Linked DNA regions of Homo sapiens. The gene in region 1 interacts genetically with each later gene. Each region holds a gene or a part of one and is shown on either strand. Other genes may lie near its edges.

Evidence for each region. A genetic interaction does not mean that the proteins touch.
Region 2: of HDAC1 (region 1) and SMARCA4, changing one suppresses a phenotype caused by changing the other (phenotypic suppression), as found in Homo sapiens cells (one study listed by BioGRID).
Region 3: of HDAC1 (region 1) and NR2F2, changing one enhances a phenotype caused by changing the other (phenotypic enhancement), as found in Homo sapiens cells (one study listed by BioGRID).

The regions. Positions count from the first base shown.
Region 1 is NC_000001.11:32,295,083-32,302,161, forward strand, and holds part of HDAC1 (histone deacetylase 1), read left to right. Parts: intron 1-7,079. UniProt on the Homo sapiens protein: Histone deacetylase that catalyzes the deacetylation of lysine residues on the N-terminal part of the core histones (H2A, H2B, H3 and H4).
Region 2 is NC_000019.10:10,984,951-10,992,029, forward strand, and holds part of SMARCA4 (SWI/SNF-related matrix-associated actin-dependent regulator of chromatin subfamily A member 4), read left to right. Parts: intron 1-322; coding exon 323-455; intron 456-1,238; coding exon 1,239-1,643; intron 1,644-1,954; coding exon 1,955-2,053; intron 2,054-2,715; coding exon 2,716-2,974; intron 2,975-4,366; coding exon 4,367-4,493; intron 4,494-6,199; coding exon 6,200-6,373; intron 6,374-7,079. UniProt on the Homo sapiens protein: ATPase involved in transcriptional activation and repression of select genes by chromatin remodeling (alteration of DNA-nucleosome topology).
Region 3 is NC_000015.10:96,326,733-96,333,699, forward strand, and holds the start of NR2F2 (COUP transcription factor 2), read left to right. Parts: upstream 1-3,967; 5' UTR 3,968-5,373; coding exon 5,374-5,815; intron 5,816-5,832; exon of another isoform or gene 5,833-5,889; intron 5,890-6,528; exon of another isoform or gene 6,529-6,575; intron 6,576-6,967. UniProt on the Homo sapiens protein: Ligand-activated transcription factor. Activated by high concentrations of 9-cis-retinoic acid and all-trans-retinoic acid, but not by dexamethasone, cortisol or progesterone (in vitro). Regulation of the apolipoprotein A-I gene transcription.

The DNA of each region.
Region 1 (7,079 bases):
CAGTATCTTAGTCTGCTATAACAGAACACTGTTTATAAAGAACAGAAATTGCTGAATGTGGTGGCTCACGCCTATAATCCCAGTACTTTGGTAGGCTGGGGCGGATGGTTCTCTTGAGCCCAGGAGTTTGAGACCAGCCTGGGCAACTTAGGGAGACTCTGTCTCTACAAAAAGTAAAAAAATTAGCTGGGCATGATGGCATGTGCCTGTAGAGAGGCTGAAGTGGGAGGATCACTTGATCCTGGGAGGTCGACTCTGCAGTGAGCCATGATCGCACCAGTGCACTCCAGCCTGGGGGACAGAGTGAGACCTTGTGTCAAAAAAAAAAAAAGAACATAAATGTATTTCTCATAGTTCTGGAGGCTGAGAAGTCCAAGGCTAGAAAGTCCAAGATCAGGGTGCCAGCATTTGGTGTCTGGTGAGGGTCTGGTCTCTACTTCCAATATGGTGCTTTGAATTCAGTGTTTTCATATGACAGAAGGTGGAAAGGCAAAAAAGGATAAACTCTGTTTTTTTATATGGCCATTAATGTATTAGTGAGGATGGTAGAGCCCTTGAGACCTAAACACCTCCCAAAAGGCTCCACTTCCAAACACTGTTGGCATTGGGGAATATGTTTCCAACACATGAATTTTGGGGGACACATTCAGACCATAACAATCAGCATATGGATAGTTATTTTATTTGTTTGTTTGTTTGTTTGTTTGTTGTAGAGATGTTGTCTTGCCATGTTGTCCAGGCTGGCCTTGAAGTCCTGGGCTCAGCCTCCCAAAGTGTTGGGATTATAGGCATGACCCACCATTCCTGGCTGCTAGCAATTTTAATTGTAGTAAATTTAGTCATAAAGGATGCAGTCACCCAATAAGTTATATAGAATTCCAGGGTGGAATTCTAAGGAAGTGGATTGAGGAAAAGTTTAGTGCCCCTCATGCTGTGTACTCCCCCGTGATAGTATTTGTCACTGTGTAGAGGAATTGCCCATTTACTTGGTCATATTTCTTGTAGAGAGGAGGCTCTTTAGGGAAAGGGGCCGTGCCTTGTCTACCTCTGTATCCCCAGCACCAAAAACAATGCCTAGCTCATGGTAGGTTCTCAATAAATATTTGTTGATTAAATGTATAATGATAGAGAGTGAGGGGCCGGAGAGGTAGGTGAACCAGAAAGTACTGGGTTGCAGAAGCTAAAGAAGGGAGGGATTGGGCAAGTGTTGGCGGCAACTGGGGCAGAAGCTAGATTGTGGTAGATTGCAGTACATGGATGGCTAACTGAAGAGGAGACATCAGGTTGAACCCTTTTTTTGGAGACAGGGCCTCACTCTGTCACTCAGGCTGGAGTGCAGTGGCATGATCCTGGCTCACTACCACCTCTGCCTCCCAGGCTCAAGCAGTCCTCCCACCTCAGCCTTCCAAGTAGCTGGAACCACAGGTGTGCACCCTTTTTGTATTTTTTGTTTAGAAGACAAACGGTTGTCTTTTGTTTAGAGACAGGATTTCGCCATGTTGCCCAGGCTGGTCTCAAACTCCTGAGCTCAAGTCATCTACCCGCCTCAGCCTCCCAAAGTGCTGGGTTTACAGGCGTGAGCCATCATGCCCAGCTGGTTGAACCCTTTTAAAGGGAAGCTTGTGTGAGGTAGGGAGAGAGGATTGTTGATAAGGGAGATGGAGATGTAGTGGCTAAAAGTTGAGCATATTGAAATAATTCTTATGGAAAATAGCCAGAAGAGAGGGAGAGGCTGAAGATACAGGAAAGGGACTAGTAGTGATGGAGCTTCCTGAGGAGACCAGGGGAGATGGAAACCGGAGCCCAGCTAGAGACACTAACCTTCAACAAATTCCTTTGTGATGCGAGGGTAAATGTCAAGGAAAAGTTCAAATGGAGGTAAGTTTGAAGAGGAGAAGATAAGGAGAAAGTTGAGGGAGTTCTCAAGATCAGGAAAGAGAATATTCCTTTTCCTGAGGGTGGGGTAGGGCAGTTGGTGGAGCAGGAATCTTGAAGAGAGGAGATTTAAATAGCTTTTGCAAAAGTGGGGGGCTAGGGAAAGAAATTTGGAAGGATTGCTGGCAGTGATAAGAATCATTTTGAGGCTGGAACCTGTGATTTTTGTAGTCATATCATTTTGCACAGTTTTATGATAACATTTTATGATAACATTGTCAGTTTAAAAGAAGAAAAAAATGGGCTGGGCATGGTGGTTCACGCCTGTAATCCCAGTAGTTTGGGAGGCCAAGGCGGAAGGATCACTTGAGACCAGGCGTTCAAGACCAGCCTGGGCAACAAAATGAGACCTCCCCCAGCTCTACAAAACAACACAAAAAAATAAGCTGGGTGTGGTGGCACTTGCCTGTAATCGCAGCTACTTGGGAGGTTGAGGTGGGAGACTGAGGCAGGTGGATGGTTTGAGCCCAGGTGGAGCCTGCAGTGACCCATAATGGCACCACTGCACTCAGCTTGAGTGACAAAGCAAGACCCTGCCTCAAAAAAAGAAAAAGAAAAAGTACAAAGACCTCAGTCTTTAGATAAGGGAATAGACTTCTTTTTTTGCGGGGGGGACGGAGTCTTGCTCTGTCGCCCAGGCTGGAGTGCAGTGGCGCCATCTCGGCTCACTGCAAGCTCTGCCTCCAGGGTTCATGCCATTCTCCTGCCTCAGCCTCCCGAGGAGCTGGGACTGGAGGCGCATGACACTACGCCTGGCTAATTTTTTTTTTTTTTTTTTTTTTTTTTTTTTGAGATGGAGTCTTGCTCTTTCACCCAGGCTGGAGCGCAGTGGCGCGATCTCGGCTCACTGCAACCTCCACCTCCCAGGTTCACGCCATTCTCCTGCCTCAGCCTCCCGAGTAACTGGTACTACAGGCGCCTACCACCACACCTGGCCAATTTTTTGTATTTTTAGTAGAGACGGGGTTTCACCGTGTTAGCCAGGATGGTCTCCATCTCCTGACCTTGTGATTCGCCCGCCTCGGCCTCCCAAAGTGGTGGGATTACAGGCGTGAGCCAGCGCGCCCGGCCTTTTTTTTTTTTTTTTGAGACCAAGTTTTGCTCTTGTTGCCCAGGCTGGAGCGCAGTGGCGCAATCTCAACTCACTGCAACCTCCGCCTCCCAGGTTTAAGCGATTCTCCTGCCTCAGCCTTCCTGAGTAGCTGGGATTACAGGCATATGCCACCACGCCCGGCTAATTTTGTATTTTTAGTAGAGACGGGGTTTCTCCATGTTGGTCAGGCTGGTCTTGAACTCTCGACCTCAGATGATCGCCTGCCTCGGCCTCCCAAAGTGTTGGGATTACAGGCGTCAGGCACCGCGCCCGGCCATTTTTTGTATTTTTAGTAGAGACGGGTTTCACCGTGTTAGCCAGGATGTTCTTGATCTCCTTACCTCATGATCCACCCGCCTCGGCCCAAAGTGCTGGGATTACAGGCGTGAGCCACTAGGCCCAGCCGGGAATAGACTTCTTACTTGAGAAACTGAGTTTTGCAGTGAGGTCATTACTTTGGGATTCAGATTTGGCTCTGCCATTGAGAAGCTTTGTAATATCAGGCAAGTCACCTTACATTTCAGATTTCTCTCCTATAAAATCAAAATGATAGGAGTTCCTATTATGAGAACAATGATGGGAAAGCTCTTTAAGAGTTTAAAGTATGGCTGGCGCCATGGCTCACGTCTGTAATCCCAGCACTTTGAGAGGCCGAGGTGGGCGGATCACTTGAGGTCAGGAGTTCAAGACAAGCCTGGGCAACATGGTGAAACCCTGACTCTACTAAAAATACAAAACTTAGCCAGGCGTGGTGGCACATGTCTGTAATCCCAGCTACTCAGGAGGCTGAGGCAGGAGAATTGTTTGAACCTGGGAGGCAGAGGTTGCAGTGAGCCTGAGATCGCACCACTGCACTCCAGCCTGGGTGACAGAGTGAGACTCTGTCTCCAAAAATAAAAATTAAAATTAAGTAGTACCTAAATAAAAAGGACCATTTCTTTTAAAGTCTCTCAGCAACCTGATTAAGATATAGAGATATATCTTTATTTTAATTACAGTAAATTTAATCATAAAGGATGCAGTCACCCAAGAAGTTATATAGAAGAGGATCCAGGGTGGAATTCTAAGGAAGTGGACAGTGTCCCTCATGCTGTGTGCTCCCCTGTCATAGCATTTGTCAATGTGTATAGGAATACACACAGCACGGGTTGGCAAACTAATTAAAAACTGTTAAGAAAAGGATGGTTGGCCTGCACTGTTGGAGGCTCACATCTGTAATCCCAGCACTTTAGAAGGCTGATCAGGAGTTTGAAACCAGCCTGGGCAACAAAGCAAGATGCCATCTCTACAAACAAACAAACAAAAACATCAAACAAAAAAAAACATAAAAAGAAAAGGATGCTGTCTCAGAGCCCCACCCTCACTACCCTCACCTCAGATACTCCCTTAACCTTCTGGATAAGATATCTTAGTCCCCCAGGTCTGAGCCTTGGCTGGATCTAGGCTTGATAGGCAAGGGAGTTGCTAGGGATCAAGGCTCATGCCTTTTTTTCACTGGGTGCCTAGAGCTCTGCCTCATCCTAATAAATCTCTAAGGAGAGATCTTTGGGTGTGTAGTTCACTTGATTTTGCAACATTGTTCAAGGAATTTTCTATCAGGTAGACTTATAGAGCCCTCTAGATTAAGTGCAAACTGAAGTAGGTACCTGAGAAGCCCAATGTAGGGCCTGGCACGGTGGCTCACACCTGTAATCCCAGCACTTTGGGAGGCCGAGGTGGACGGATCACGAGGTCAGGAGATCAAGACCATCCTGGTTAACACGGTGAAACCCCGTCTTTACTAAAAGTACAAAAAAAATTAGCCGGGCTTGATGGCAGGCATCTGTAGTCCCAGCTGCTTGGGAGGCTGAGGCAGGAGAATGGCGTGAACCCTGGAGGCGGAGCTTGCAGTGAGCCGAGATCGCACCACTGCACTCCAGCCTGGGCGACAGAGCGAGACTCTGTCTCAAAAAAAAAGAAAAAAGGAAAATCCAATGTAGCTTTTAGCATATTGGATTTGGAGTCCGAAGAGTGGACTCCAGATCAGTCATTAGCTGTGTGATCTTGAGCAGGCACTTAACTTCTCTGAGTCTCAATTCAATTCATTGAATCTTTATTGAGCCTCTGTGATATACAAGGCATATTAATCCTTGCCTTCAAGGGGTACCCAGTCTTGTGGATATAGTCATGTAAATAATTCAGATATAAAACAATCCTAGCACTTTGGGAGGCTGAGGTGGGCATATCACTTGAGGTGAGGAGTTCCAGACCAGCCAGGCCAACATAGTGAAACCCCACCTCTACTAAATATGAAAATTAGCTGGATTTGGTGGCACGCACCTGTAATCCCAGCAATTTAGGAGGCTGAGGCAGGAGAACTGCTTGAACCTGGGAGGCAGAGGTTGCACTGAGCCGCCGAGATAGTACCATTGCACTCCAGCCTAGGCGACAGAGTGAGACTCCGTCTCAAGAAATAAAAAAAAAAAGAAAAGAAAACTAATGAAGTGCTGTATACAAATTGCATGTAGAGGAAAAGACCATTTATTTTGATCAAGAAAGGGTTTGGAGCTTGAGGTGGGCTTTGTAGTATGAGCATCATCAAAGAAAGGAGGACATTTCAGGTCAAAGGAATAGTCTGCACAGAGGATACTGTGGTGTGAAGGTGAATGTCATGTTCAGGATACTGATCATAATCTGGTGTGTCTGGAGCACAGGTTGGCAAACTTTTTCTATATAGGGCCAGATAGTAAATATTTTAGGCTTTATTTTGCCATATGCTTGGGTGTCTGTGGCAACTAAACTGCTCAGCTCTGCCACTGTAGTGTGAAAACAGCCATAGAGGAACTGTAAACGGATGGGCATGGCTGTGTTCCAATAAAATTTTATTTACCAAAACAGGCAACTAGTTGTATTTGTCCCAAGGGCCATAGTTTGCCTACTCCAGTCTAGAGCAAAGAGAGAGAGAGAGTGAGTGTGTGTGTGTTGTGGGAAAGGGTGGTAGCAGGAGATGAAGCTGGAAAGGCAGGTTAAGAAAGTCCTTGGATGAAGCTGGAAAGGCAGATTAAGAAAGTCCTTGGCCGGGCGCGGTGGCTCATGCCTGTAATCCCAGCACTTTGGGAGGCCGAGGCGGGCAGATCACAAGGTCAGGAGATCAAGACCATCCTGGCTAACACAATGAAACCCCGTCTGTACTAAAAATACAAAAAATTAGCTGGGCATGGTGGCAGGCGCCTGTAGTCCCAGCTACTCGGGAGGCTGAGGCAGGAGAATGGCGTGAACCCTGGAGGCGGAGCTTGCAGTGAGCTGAGATCGCGCCACTGCACTCCAGCCTGGGCAACACAGCGAGACTCTGTCTCAAAAAAATAAATAAATAAAGTAAAAGAAAGTCCTTGAATGCTGGCCAGGCGCGGTGGCTCACACCTGTAATCCCGGCACTTTGGGAGGCCGAGGTGAGTGGATCAACTGAGGTTAGGAGTTTGAGACCAGCCTGACCAACAAGGTGAAACCCCTTCTCTACTAAAAATACAAAAATTAGCCAGGCATGGTAGCACATGCCTGTGATGCCAGCTACTTGAGAGGCTGAGGCAGGAGAATTGTTTGAACCCAGGAGGCGAAGGTTGCAGTGAGCTGAGATTGCACCACTGCACTCCAGCTTGGGCAACAGATCGAGACTTGTCTCAAAAAAAAGAAAGTCCTTGAATGCCAGTCTTCTGAAGTTATTATTATTAAATGTTGAGACCCAGCCTGGTCTTGAACTCCTGGGCTCAAGTGATTTTCCTGCCTCAGCCTCCAGAGTAACTGGGATTACAGGCTCATGCCACCATGCCTATCTCTATTAAAGTTATTCTTTACTCTTTATCCTGTAGGGGATGGGGAGCCATAAGGATTTTTTGAGCGAAGGAGTGATGTTATCAGAATTGTGGATTAGGAAAATAACTCTGGTGACAGTGTGGCAGGTAGTGTGAATTGAAGGTAGAGGGACCAATTAGAAGGCTAGTGTTATAGATTAAGCATGTGATAAGTTTTAGTTTTCTTATCTGTAAGGTGAGAATAATAATACCCCCTGTCCTAC
Region 2 (7,079 bases), on another chromosome or scaffold:
CATATTAGCATCCATGAGAAAAGGTGACATTTCTAAGTGTCACGGGCCACAGGAGGTCCCGGGTGGTAGAAGATGAGGATTGCTTGACCACAGTCTCCCATATGCTCGTGCTCCACTGGGCGACATTTATTTTGTGTACCTGTCTCGAGGCCTAAGTAGGTGTCAGAACCTTGCCTTGGAGTCATGCTGGGGACTGGGGAGATGCGCGTCATCTTCGGGTGGCTGTTCTCGGTGCCCTCGAGCTTCTCTCGGGCAGCGCATAGCTGCGCTGCCACCTCACGTTCCACATGCTGACCCTGCCTTGCCATGGTCCCTCTCGCAGCCCATGGAGTCCATGCATGAGAAGGGCATGTCGGACGACCCGCGCTACAACCAGATGAAAGGAATGGGGATGCGGTCAGGGGGCCATGCTGGGATGGGGCCCCCGCCCAGCCCCATGGACCAGCACTCCCAAGGTACAGAACTGCGTTCCTTCCTGCCTTGTGTTTGTCATACTCCAGAGTCCTCAGATCATTTTCCTCCCCTGGGTTCCCACAGGATGGATTCAGGGAGTACCTAGGATGATGTAGCCGGGTGGGTGGCCCGCCACAGAGAGCTGTCTGGCATGGCGTGGCTGGTGCTCTGTTCTGGCCACCTCGTCTCGGAGCAGCCCTGGAAGGGGAAATGCTGGTTGGGGGGCAGACCATGTTCAGCATGGGTGATAGAGGAGGGCTGTGCAGGGCAGCAGCCCCGTGCCACCCAGGAACTTACTGGAAATACAGATTCCTGGGGCCTGGGACTCTGCTTTAATGAGCCCAGCAGGTGCCTTTTCTGTACGAGGACAATTGAGAAGTGATATGGTGGGTGACTTTCCAAGGCCTTGCTGTCATCAGGGGTGGGAAGCTCAGGGGCTGCACTGGGAATGGAAGTGTTGGGGGTGGGCCTGGCGAGCCCGAGGATGTGGACCCCGCCTGTGGACAGGCAGGCGGAAGCCGGGAGAGAGCCGTGATTTCATGCACAGGTTCTCAGCATTAACCAGAAGCACCTTACTGAGACGTGGGCCAAACCAAATCCACCAGGTCGGCTGCTGGGCTGAGGTGCCTTCAGCATGTGCCCTCCAGGTGCCCCTGGTTGACTCAAGAGAAGGATGCCATTTGGCTGTGCCCTGTCTCAGAGTAGGAGCTGGTGTAGGGGGAAGAGGCTGTAAAAATCACAGACATATGCTGCCGAGTGACCAGTGGGCTGACCTTTCTCTGCAGGTTACCCCTCGCCCCTGGGTGGCTCTGAGCATGCCTCTAGTCCAGTTCCAGCCAGTGGCCCGTCTTCGGGGCCCCAGATGTCTTCCGGGCCAGGAGGTGCCCCGCTGGATGGTGCTGACCCCCAGGCCTTGGGGCAGCAGAACCGGGGCCCAACCCCATTTAACCAGAACCAGCTGCACCAGCTCAGAGCTCAGATCATGGCCTACAAGATGCTGGCCAGGGGGCAGCCCCTCCCCGACCACCTGCAGATGGCGGTGCAGGGCAAGCGGCCGATGCCCGGGATGCAGCAGCAGATGCCAACGCTACCTCCACCCTCGGTGTCCGCAACAGGACCCGGCCCTGGCCCTGGCCCTGGCCCCGGCCCGGGTCCCGGCCCGGCACCTCCAAATTACAGCAGGCCTCATGGTAAGACTGGCTGCCCTGGCCCTCAGGTGTCTCAGAGCGAATGGCTGGGGCGTGGGTGGCGGGGTGGACAGACCGTGCTCTGTTGCCGACTGGGTTCCCCGGTTTGGGATTGCACGGGCCCATACTGCACTTCTGGGTGCTCGGGTGGTGGGGGCAGCTAAATGCTGCTTCCCCAGCTCCCCGCTTCCCCTGGGGCCGCTGGTTAATAGGTGTATCTGCTGTGTCCCCTGGAGCCAGGGCTGCCCACGGGGCTGGGCGCAGGCATAAACCTGGGACGCACTGTTTTCTCTTTTGTTTCTCCCTACATGTAGGTATGGGAGGGCCCAACATGCCTCCCCCAGGACCCTCGGGCGTGCCCCCCGGGATGCCAGGCCAGCCTCCTGGAGGGCCTCCCAAGCCCTGGCCTGAAGGTGAGCTCCCTCTTCTATGGTGGTGCACCCGTGCCCTTACTCCCCATCTCAAGCTTGGGTCCTTGAGATGAGCTTTGTCAGGGAGAAAGGGCCGAGGGTGGTCAGGCTGAACTGCAGCCTGTACTTTTCTTGTGGTGGTCCCCGGGTCTCCCCTGTAGCCAGTCAGTTCCCAAAGGCTGTCGTTCATCCCTCCTCTGACAGCTTGTGGCCTTCACCCAGTCCCTGAGCCCTGTATATGTAATTGCTCAGTAAGTGCTGCAGGCTCCCATCTGTTGGGCTCAAAGAGGCAGTGGGACTCATTACCCATCCTCTTGGAGCCTGAGGTTTAGCGATGGGCATTGAGGGGCAAATTGCTTCCACTGGATTTAGTTGGCACTAGGAGGAGATGACAGGAAATGCTGCCATAGAGCCACAGACAGAACAAAAAGGCCTTGGGAGCCTGGGGCTGGCCCCAGTGGAGGGTGTGAAGGACGAGGGTGAGGCTGAGATCTGGAGGAGGTTGGAGCCCAAGGCAGGTGTGAAGGACACCCCTGGGTGAAAGGTGGGAGATGGGCGGGGTCTGCCTGTCCCCAGTGCCTCAAGCAGCTCAGCAGCTTTCCATTTCCAGCCCGGGATGGGCCCCAGAGCTCAACATGACGCCCTGGCCCCTTGCCTTCTCCCAGGACCCATGGCGAATGCTGCTGCCCCCACGAGCACCCCTCAGAAGCTGATTCCCCCGCAGCCAACGGGCCGCCCTTCCCCCGCGCCCCCTGCCGTCCCACCCGCCGCCTCGCCCGTGATGCCACCGCAGACCCAGTCCCCCGGGCAGCCGGCCCAGCCCGCGCCCATGGTGCCACTGCACCAGAAGCAGAGCCGCATCACCCCCATCCAGAAGCCGCGGGGCCTCGACCCTGTGGAGATCCTGCAGGAGCGCGAGTACAGGTGAGGGCGGGGCCCAGTTGCCAAGGTCACTGCCCTGTGTCCCCCATGTCCCCCTGGGGAAGCCACTCAACTTTCTCCCCCACTCTAGCAAACAGTGCCCTGTGCCCACCACTGCCACTTGGCCTACACCTCCTTCCTCACCTCCCTGCTCCCACCCTGGCTGCGGTCTGTTTCCCACACAGCAGTTTGAGTTCTCTCTCTTTTTTTTTTTTTGAGACGGAGTTTCACTCTTGTTGCCCACGCTGGAGTGCAATGGCACAATCTCGGTTCACTGCAACCTGCATCTCCTGGCTTCAAGCGATTCTTCTGCCTCAGCCTCCTGAGTAGCTGGGATTATAGGCATGCGCCACCACACCTGGCTAATTTTGTATTTATTTTAGTAGAGGCAGGGTTTCTCCATGTTGGTCAGGCTGGTCTCGAGCTCCTGACCTCAGATGCTCCCAAAGTGCTGGGATTACAGGCATGAGCCACCGCACCTGGCATGAATTCTCTTTTTATGATTGATATCAGATCTACTCCGTGGATTAAAACCTGCCTGTAGCTTCAATTATCTGCCCAATAAGCTTTGCCTTATGTCCACTCCTGCCCAGCATCCTTCCTCACCCATCCCAGTCTCTCTGTTCCTCTTTTCATTTATTTAACAAGTTAGACTTGTTCCTGCCCCAGGACCTTTGCACAGGCTGTGCATGGCTCCTTCTACTCATTCAGGCCTGATTGCTGGGGTTCCCTCCTCATGGAGGCCCTTCCTGTCACTTCCAGCCACTCTCTGGAATTGCAGTGGATATTTTATTTTTTTTAAATCTCCTTTATGGCCTGTGTTTTCTAATGAGACTGAGAGTTCCTTGCTTTGTTGTTCTTGTTTAGTGCTAAGGCCCTGCACTTAAAATGGTCCCTGGCATACAGTTGGTGCTCAATGAGTATGTGCAGAAAGACTGATTAAGAGAATTAGCCCACATAACCTTCGCATGTAACCTTCGTAACCTTCAGACCAAGCCTCTAGGGTCACTCCGAGGGGTTGCCTCAGTTTTGAGGTGAGAATGCTGAGGTGTGCAGTTGAAATAGATTCCCACCGCCCTGCGCCTCATCCATGCCAGAGCTGCATGAAAACCTTGGCCCGCCTGACGCCAGAACCTGGCTCACACCACTGAAAAGGCATGACCTGGGCGCGTCTATCAGGAATCTTGTTTGCTGTCCCCTGAGGCCCGGTCCTGAGGAGTGCCCCGGGCTATCTCCCTCTCTGCTGTGCCCTGCGGCCAGCATCCTCTTCTGAGGCATCTCTTGCCTCATGACTAGTGCCTGCCTCTCTCGAGGGATGGGTCCCCTGCAGCTCCAGCTGTAACTGGGTGCCCTGGCAACCCTCTCACCGCCTTTGCTCCTTGTCTCTGCTCCCAGGCTGCAGGCTCGCATCGCACACCGAATTCAGGAACTTGAAAACCTTCCCGGGTCCCTGGCCGGGGATTTGCGAACCAAAGCGACCATTGAGCTCAAGGCCCTCAGGCTGCTGAACTTCCAGAGGCAGGTGGGTGCTGGCATGGCCGCAGCTTTCCGAAAAGGGCCTTTGTCACCAACACTGCTGCTAAGGCTCCAAATACGGCTTGCCTGGCTAGTATTACACCTGCCTGGGCTGTGAAAAGCAGCCGTGGCCATCCATGGGCACTCAATCACTGCAGAGCCTTCCTCTTACGGCCTGCGCAGTGCTGGGGACGTGGACCTCACTACCCTAAAGCACTTGCCGCCTCAAAGCAGACTTGTATGGGCTTCTTTCTTCCTTTCCCTTTCCCTTTTTTTTTTTTTTTGGAAACAGTCTTGCTCTATCACCTAGGCTGGAGTGCAGTGGCATAAACTCTGCTCACTGCAACCAACGCCTCCTGGGATCAAGCAATTCTTCTGCTTCAGCCTCCCAAGTAGCTGGGATTACAAGCGTGTGCCACCATGCCTAATTTTTATATTTTTAGTAGAGACAGGGTTTCACCATATTGGCCAGGCTGGTCTCAAACTCTTGACCTCAAATGATCGGCCTGCCTTGGCCTCCCAAAGTGCTGGGATTACAGGCATGAGCCACCACGTGCTGTCCTGCATGGGTCTATTTCTGAGGGTACTGTGCTTAGACCCTGGAGTGCAGTGGAGAGATCACAGCTCACTGCAAACTTGACCTCCCAGGCTCATGTCCTCCTCCCGCTTCAGCCTCCTGAGTAGCTGGGACTATAGGCGTGCACCATTACACCTGGCTATATTTTTCTTTTTTTTGAAACAGAGTCTCACTCTGTCACCCAGGCTGGAGTGCAGTGGTGCCATCTCACCCCACTGTGGCCTCTGCCTCTGTGGTTCAAGTGATTTTCCTGTCTCAGCCACTGAGTAGCTGGGATTACAGGTGTGCACCACCATGCCGGGCTGATTTTTTTGAAGTGCAGTGGCACAATCTTGGCTCACTGCAACCTCTGCCTTCCAGGTTCAAGTGATTCTCCCACCTCAGCCTCCTGAGTAGCTGGGATTACAGGCATGTGCCCCACGCCTGGCTAATTTTTGTATTTTTAGTAGAGACAGTGTTTCACCATGTTGGCCAGGCTGGTCTTAAACTCCTGACCTCAGGTGATCCTCCTGCCTCAGCCTCCCAAAGTGCTGGGATTACAGGCATGAGCCACCACGCAGGCCTGGTTTTTGTATTTTTAATAGACACAGGGTTTCGCCATGTCGCCCAGGCTAGTCTCGAACTCCTGAGCTCAAGCCATCCACCTGTCTCAGCCTCCCAAAGTGCTGGGATTACAGGCATGAGCCACTGCTCCTGGCCGCCTAGTTAATTTTTCTTCTAGTTTTTGTAGAAGTGAGGTCTCTCCATGTTGCCCAGGTTGGTCTCAAACTCCTGGGCTTGAGCAATCCTCCCACCTTGGCCTCCCAAAGTGTTGGGATTACTGGCGTTAAGCCACCACACCCAGCCAAGAGTGTTATACTTCTGAATGACTCCTAAGACGTGTGTGTGGTAGAGGGGAGGCAAGCTGGAGGTCCGAGAGGACCCCCTGGATAGATGTCCAGAAGTGATCACCTTCTGTCCTGTGCTCGCCCTGCCCGGGGGCACCTGCTAGACGTCCCCTGCACACACGGACTGGGTGTGTAAGGCACTTACAATGCTCCTTTAGCGGTGAAGCATGTGACATCACCATACGTGTTTGTCATTGTGGATGCCACAGAGCTGTGCAGTGCGCGGGCTTGTCCTCTTCCCTCCTACAGCTGCGCCAGGAGGTGGTGGTGTGCATGCGGAGGGACACAGCGCTGGAGACAGCCCTCAATGCTAAGGCCTACAAGCGCAGCAAGCGCCAGTCCCTGCGCGAGGCCCGCATCACTGAGAAGCTGGAGAAGCAGCAGAAGATCGAGCAGGAGCGCAAGCGCCGGCAGAAGCACCAGGTACGCTCCGGTGGCCCCAAGGCCCTGCAGCCCGCCCACCTGGCTGCCTGGCTTGTCCAGCGGTTGCCACGGGGCTGTGTTTGCTTTGTTCCTAAACATGCTGCTTGTCTCTCTCTTTTGCTCATTGTAACAGTATTCTAGGTACTGAGAGTGTATTGGTGTAAAAACCCAATGGTAGGGAGAAGATAGTGATGAAATCCACGCGTAGCACGTCTGGAAGGTGATAGGGCACAAAGAAAAATCAAGCCAGGATAGAGAGGAAGGAACGGGCTGTTGTAGAACTGATGTTGGGGGAGTTCTTTCTTTTGGAGGTGACATCTGGGCAGACCCCCAAGGAAGGGAGGCACACAGATCTGTGGGAAAGAGCTTTCTGGGAAAAGGAGAAGGTGCAAGGGCCCTGGGGCTGGAATGTGCCTGTGTTTTCTCTGGAAAGCAAGGACCTGCATGAGCCAGAGTAGAGTGAGTGGCGGGGAGAGCTGGAGGAAGGGAGCGCAGGGAGGTGACGAGCAGGTGATGCAGGGCCTTGCGAGCTGCATGGAGGATTTGGGCTTTTGCTCTGAGTAAAGTGGGAGCCATAGAGGGTTCTGGGCAGTGCAGGGACTGATCTGACTCAGGGTTTCCCAAGATGAATCAGTAAGACGGAAATCTTCAAATCTAAAATCAAGTAAGGATTTGGGGATGATTGTGCTGATTTGGTCATTTATAG
Region 3 (6,967 bases), on another chromosome or scaffold:
GCAGCAGATGACTCGGTTTTCTAGCAAAGGAGCTGCTAGGCTCGCACTAAGTATCAGAATTTACTGTTCGCTTTGCCTCTGCGCTTCATTTTGCAACCTTGTGCAACTGACAGCCAGGCAGGCAGGGAGGGAGAAAAGCCTAGCCCGGCGCCCTCGGCCACGGTTCGGGTAGGCGAGCGCTCGGTTAAGCTAGGAGGAGAATCGCGACGAGAAGGGTACTCACCATCGGGCGGGGCGGTGGAGCTGGCGTGCGGATTTCAGGCAAACGTTTACCTTTTTGCTGTCTATTGCAACCGCGCCGGGCTGACTTAAGAAGCAATTCTGTGCTCTGTCCAGAACATTCAAGGAGCGGTTCCTCATTTTTAAAAAGCCAGCGAGAGAGACGACAGAGACAGAGAGAAAGAAAAAGAGAGGAGGGGGTGAGGGGGACGCACATAAACCCAGTTCAAAAAAAAAAAAAAATCACCTCTTCGCCAGTGACTCGGGAAACGCAGAGGTGGCGAGATCCGAGTACGGTCCAACCAAGCCAGAGCCAATTAATTTTAAATCCTGAAGAATTATTCAGATTAAAATGTACAGAAGTTTCGTTCTCCTATGCCTACGTGAGTCCAAAGTCGTTTCCCTTTAAGAGCTCCTTTTCTTTTAAAGTTGAATTTTAGGCAGCGAGGACTCTTACACTAGGGGGCAGACAGATACTGTACTTGCTCTAATCTTAAGCAATTTTTTCCCTCCCAGCATATGCTCTGATTTAGCACTGTAAATTTTTCAGAGGACCTAACTCTGACAGCCCCTGGTGATTTTCAAAGTACCACAAGCCAGTGGTTAAAAATTGCATTGACTTGGAAGTTCAGAGGGACACAATGGAAGCCCCTTTCCCTATTCATGGAGCTCCAGTGTGGTGGAAGAGAAAAACACACACGGACTAGATTGAGGGAAAGGAGGAATTCAATGAATCCTGGAGGACGGAACTGGTTTCTACTGAGTTCAGAGTTAAACTCGGCATTTGCTGGGGTCTGTATTCATATTGTGATTCAATCTGTAAAGAAATACAGCCCATCAGGCCACTTTCTGCAAGAAAATTATATTCCTGGGTGTTGAGTTTCTTTCTTTTCTTTTTTAGATTAGGGCAAATGTTGTCCCAACTTTCTCTAGGCAAATTAAAGCTTGCCATTCTTCTCATTATAATAAATTTACATCTGCAAAAAAAGACTGAGTTGGATTTTTAAAAAACAACAATAATATATTGATTTTATCTTCTCAGAGCTTTTTAACCTTAGACGCACAGCAAGTGAGCATCTCTGGAGAAGACATTTAAAAATATTTTTGCCCTTTTTTCTTCTCAGTCTGTAGTCTTGTCTCTTCTTCTATGCATTAAAATTAAGTATAATTCATACGGTGATTTTTTTTCTCCCTTGTAACAGCATTTCATAACTGAATGAGTCCTAAAATACAGAGTGAAACACCCCTGACTTTATGGCAGCCCTGTGATCATTTGCCTAGCAGGCTCCAATTTGTTAAGATATGGTTGGGAAATTATTCCATTTTAATCTAAGGCCATCACGCATACTTCAAATTCCAAAAATCTCTAAGTGGACTGGGGAAGCTCTTCCTCCTCGATATTGTTCCTTCCCATGTTTGTAAAAGGTAATCTGCTATGGAAGTCTCATTCAGGAGGTGAGATGAAGATTTCCCTATAATCAATTATTTTCATCCTCTATTGAGATGGGAATGCCCATTAGATTTCCTATCTCAACCCCAGTCTCATCACATCTCAGCTGAGCTTGTCCCGAATCTGCTGACATTTGTAACATTAGCAATTCCTGAATCATAGAGGTTGGAAGGGAAAACAACAACAACTACCAAAAACCTTCTCCTGTGTAATGATTTCTTTTCCATCCTTCTTATCCTCTTTAGGAGAAAGTTATATTGTGTCTCTAATTAACCTGAAATTCTCAGCTTGGCTTCATTCTGTGGCAATCTTATTACACACCAGGTTTATGATAGTTCAGTGTCCACTATAGGTTTGCTGGGCTTTTTTTTTTTTTTTTAACAACTTTCAAATAAACCGAGAACCTGCAGCTTTAGTGAAATACGTGATTTCATCGGAGAAAGAGTGAGGGCTGAGGTTTCGGGAATGAAGCTTAAAGAAGATTTTTCCTTTCCTAAAAACCAGCCCCTATCTGCCCAGATCTTTAGTCCTTACCTCATATTCTGCCTATGTGTGTAAAGAGAATTGAATGTAAAATGTGATCTATGCATGTCAATTATATGTATGGTTTATTTTTAAAATATCTTTACCCTGTCAATTTTTTTTTCAGCTACCAAGGATGTTTTCTGTGGTCATCAATTTACTCTTCATATGTGTTCATTTCTTTCCTGGAGCTCAGCGTCTTTTGTGTAAAATATTTTAATTGTTCACAAACCTGGTTGGTTTACCGGCATGAGGTTTTTTCTTGGTGCAAAGTGTGTACAAAGGAGACACAATTTTCTTGTATAAATGTGGAATAATGATAATTCACTAACTGGTCATAAACAACAAGTTTACTGCGTTGGAATATAGTGTGTTCTGAGAGCAATTCTACATGTTTGATGTTTAAAACCAGACACCCTGGAATTCAAAGACACAACTGTCTCAATTATTTTAGCACATGGAGCAGAATGGCAATAGGCTATGAAGTTGTTCTTTTTGCAGTGACTTCTTGAGGTAGAATATGGCTTGGGTTTGGTTCTTGTGACCTGTACTAGTATTATTTCCCATTTGGGGCAGAATCTCTGGGTGCGTTTTAATGACTATATGAATGCTTAAAAGGAACTTGAGGAACAATGAAGTCCGTACTCAACTGTTCTATGACCTAGAAGCATAGTCGGTGAAGTCTTTGTCTGTGTACATTGACAAATGTGCATCTGATACATGTGCGCTTACATGTGTGTACAGAGGGTGTGCACAGGGGAGGCTGGGCGGCTGCCTCCTCCTGTCCATCAGTGGGCAGAGGTCTTTCCCCTCTCACCATGACTGGGTGTGTGGCAGGATGTTGGCTGGAGAGTTAGCTAAAACCAGCGAGAGAGGGTAAAGTTGAGGAAAATTGATTCTAATTGCATCATGACAATCAGATGAAGTCTATTTCTGCTTCTCAGCATCCGAGATGCTTTATTTGGGCAATTAAAATGTCAGGCCACATACCTGTGAAATGTTAACCCTACAAGGAATAAACAGAAACAGAACGGCCTTTATCCTCTGAAAAGAATATATGTCATATATATATGTCACCAAACCGAACAAGTGATCAGAGTTAATTAAGAGAAGGGTTTGCCATCACCCGGATCTGGCCAACTCTTTCGTTTGGAAAATGCCTACAAGCTCAGTTCGTGGCACCTTCCCACCCTCACTCCCTATCCCTCTGCAAAGAAACCAGGGAACTTTTCTTTGGCATTGTGGGTACTAAGATGCGCCAGGAGTCCCGGGTGGTGCGCGAGCGGCGGAATTCGTGACATCGCCAAGTTGCGAGAGGCAAACTCCCCGATTCCATCCAAAGCCTCTCGCGGAGCCTTTAAGAGACGTTGTGTGTGCGCGCTGCGCTAGTCTCCCCGCCGGGGCGGAAACCTCGGGTGCGGGATGTGGGGAGAGCAGAGGCAGCGCTCGCAGGGCCAGCACGGGCCCATCCCCCTCTCGGCGGCGGCGGCGGCGGCGGCGCGGCCACCCCGTCCCCGCCCCCCCAACCCCCGGTCCCCCGCGTGCCCCGCGCCGCGCCGGCGACGCCGCTCGCGCTAGGACCGGGCTGCGCCCGCGGCCGCCATGGCGGGGCCGCCGCAGTCCGGCCAATGACGGCGAGGGGGCGGCGCGCGCGCGCCTGGCCAGGCCAACCCCGGCTGCTGCCTTATAAGGCGCGCCGTCGCCATGGCAACGTGCGCTAAGTTGCAGCAGTCGTGTCAAAGTTCACTATATAGAGAGCTCAGTGAGCTGATCGCGGAGAAGCCACTTCTGCCAGCCCCGGCGCCTATAAATCGCATTCCCTCCCGCGCCCCCCTTTTTAGCATATTTGATCACTTTGATTCTCTGTTCTTTTCTCTCCGCGGTGTGTGTGTGCGTGCGCGCGTGTGTGTTTTCTTCTTCTCCTCCTCCTCTCCCCGAGTTGCCTCCTTTCTCCGGGTGCCGTACTGCCTTTTTTCCCCTCTTTCATTCTTTCTCTCCGTCTTTTTCTCCCCCCTCTGCGCACGAAGGATGTGCTTCTAGGTGGTGATCTGCCCTCCTCTCTCTCTTTTATCATTTCTCCCCCGCCGCCGGCGAGTTGACTCTTTCCCTATGTGTGTGAGGCGGCGGCGGCAGCAGCAGCAGCAGCGGCTCCGGCGGCGGCAGCAGCGGCAGCAGCGACTTCAGCGGCGGCGGCGGCGCTAGACGCAGCGGCTCCGGGCCCGACCCGGCGGCTTCGGCGGCGGCTCCGGCGGCAGCGGCGGCCCGGGCGGCCCGCAGGGAACGGCGAGCGGCCTCCACCCAGCGACTGCGGGCGGCGGCGGCCGGAGAGAGCGAGGCGCGCGCCGGACGCCCGGGGCAGGCGGCGGCGGCGGCGGCCCAGCGCCAGGACGACGCCGCGCAGCGCCCGACGCGGACCACTTTCATGCTGATTCCCCCGGACCCGGGCAGCGCTCCGGCCACTCCGCGGGCCGCCGGCCTCCGCCCCGGCCTGCCTGGCTCCCTGGGCGCGCCCGCACCCGGCGCCTCCGATCTCCTAGTCCTCCTGATTTCGATGGCTTTCCTGAATGGCTGACTGTGGGCTGCCCTGGACTTGGCCCCCGGACAGTCGCCTCTCCTCCTCCTCTACCTCCTCCTTCACCACCACCTCCTCTTCCTCCTCCTCCTCCTCCTCCTCCTCCGCCAACTCCTCGGCTGCACACCAGCTCTAAGAGCGAGAGTGAACGAGAGAGGGAGGGAGAGAGTGAGAGCGAGCGAGATCTTTGGAGAGATTTTTTTTTTTGCCTCCTACTTCTGTCTTGAAGCCAGACAATCGACTTCAGCTCTCCCTCCCCTCCCTCTTTCTCCACGTTCTGCTCCCACTCGCTCTCCTGTCCCCTTCCCCTCCCCTCCCGGCGGAAAGCCCCCCGAAACCAACAAAGCTGAGCCGAGAGAAACAAACAAAACAAACACACCGGGCCAGACAAGCCATCGACAAAACTTTGCAAAAGCAAAAACAAAAAAGGAAAAACTAACCAACCTCAACCAACCAGCCCCCGAGCCACCCGGGGCGCCCTCCCGCGCCCTCTTGCACCCTCGCACACACAAAAGGCGGCGCGCCGGAGCCCGAGACCCGGGGAGCCGCCGCCGCCCCGCCGCCGCCCGCAGCCAGGGGAGCAGGAAGTCCGGACGCAGCCCCCATAGATATGGCAATGGTAGTCAGCACGTGGCGCGACCCCCAGGACGAGGTGCCCGGCTCACAGGGCAGCCAGGCCTCGCAGGCGCCGCCCGTGCCCGGCCCGCCGCCCGGCGCCCCGCACACGCCACAGACGCCCGGCCAAGGGGGCCCAGCCAGCACGCCAGCCCAGACGGCGGCCGGTGGCCAGGGCGGCCCTGGCGGCCCGGGTAGCGACAAGCAGCAGCAGCAGCAACACATCGAGTGCGTGGTGTGCGGAGACAAGTCGAGCGGCAAGCACTACGGCCAGTTCACGTGCGAGGGCTGCAAGAGCTTCTTCAAGCGCAGCGTGCGGAGGAACCTGAGCTACACGTGCCGCGCCAACCGGAACTGTCCCATCGACCAGCACCATCGCAACCAGTGCCAGTACTGCCGCCTCAAAAAGTGCCTCAAAGTGGGCATGAGACGGGAAGGTATCGGCCTCTCATTTCTCCTTCCCTCGTCCTGGGTCCCGGGGTCCTGGGTACGTTTGGCTAGCCTGCTCTGGGTAAGGACAAGAAGCCCCAAGCTCTTCTCTTCGTATTGCAGCGGAAAAGGGTTTTATACTAGAAGCGAGTTCTGCATTGGAACCCAGACCCCAAATCCGCATGCTTTGGCCGACTGATTTCCTTCTTTACTCTCTCTTTGGGCTGTTTCCATTTCCTTTGCATTGATTGTGAGTTCACTGGAGTCTGCCTTTCTGCAAGGGATGGGGTGTTTGTTGTTGTTGTTTTAAAGCCTAGTTTACTTCTCTCTCTCTGCCCTTGTTTTTCCTGCATGTTCAACATGTCCCTCCCCCTCACCCCTTTCCCCAGCCCCCACCCTCTCAAAAAAAAAAAAAAAAAAACCTGAGATTGTACTTTTGTACAGGAGGTTCAAATTACAAATGGCAATTTTATGCACTTCGCCGTATTAACGCTGCCGCCCGGGCAGCGCTCATGTGACCCTCCGTGGATTAACATCCTGCTAAAAAAAAAAATACCTCTGCTTTCTTTTTTCCTTTCACTTTTTGAAACGAAGAGAGCGCGATAGGAAGTAGGAAAGGGTGGGCGAGGGGCCCTGGGCGGCTGCTTTCGCTCTGCGCGAGTTGGGTCTTTGTGATATAAAATTCGCCGAGCGCCGCGAGCCGTGCTTTGCCAATGGCGCGCTCGGCGCGGGGCGCGGGCTCCGGGTTGGGGCGAGCCAACGCCGGGGTTTCTTTGTGTTTCTGCGAGAGCGACTCTCCCGGTCCGGAGTCAGATAACAGCCTGGGCCCGAGCCTCGCCGGCTTTCCCCGGCCCTTACAGGCCCTGCCCAGGCTCCGCTAGTGCCGGCCGCCTGCTCCCTGCCTCTCCCGGCTTCCTCTCTCTTTAGCCGGCCTCTCTCTCTCCGCCCTCTCCCTCCGTCTCTTTCTCCGAGCACACTGATTAGACAGACGCCAGACCTCCGCTCTCTGCTTGTCTCTCACTGGGGGGGTTCCCCGCCGGGCTGGGGCTGGGGCTTCGGGGTTTGTGGGAGAGTCGTTCCGGAGTGGCCACAGGCCGTCTGGGGTGGACCCTCGTGCCTTTTGCAAAAGCGCCTCACCCTCCCCCCAGACTCGCCCCTCC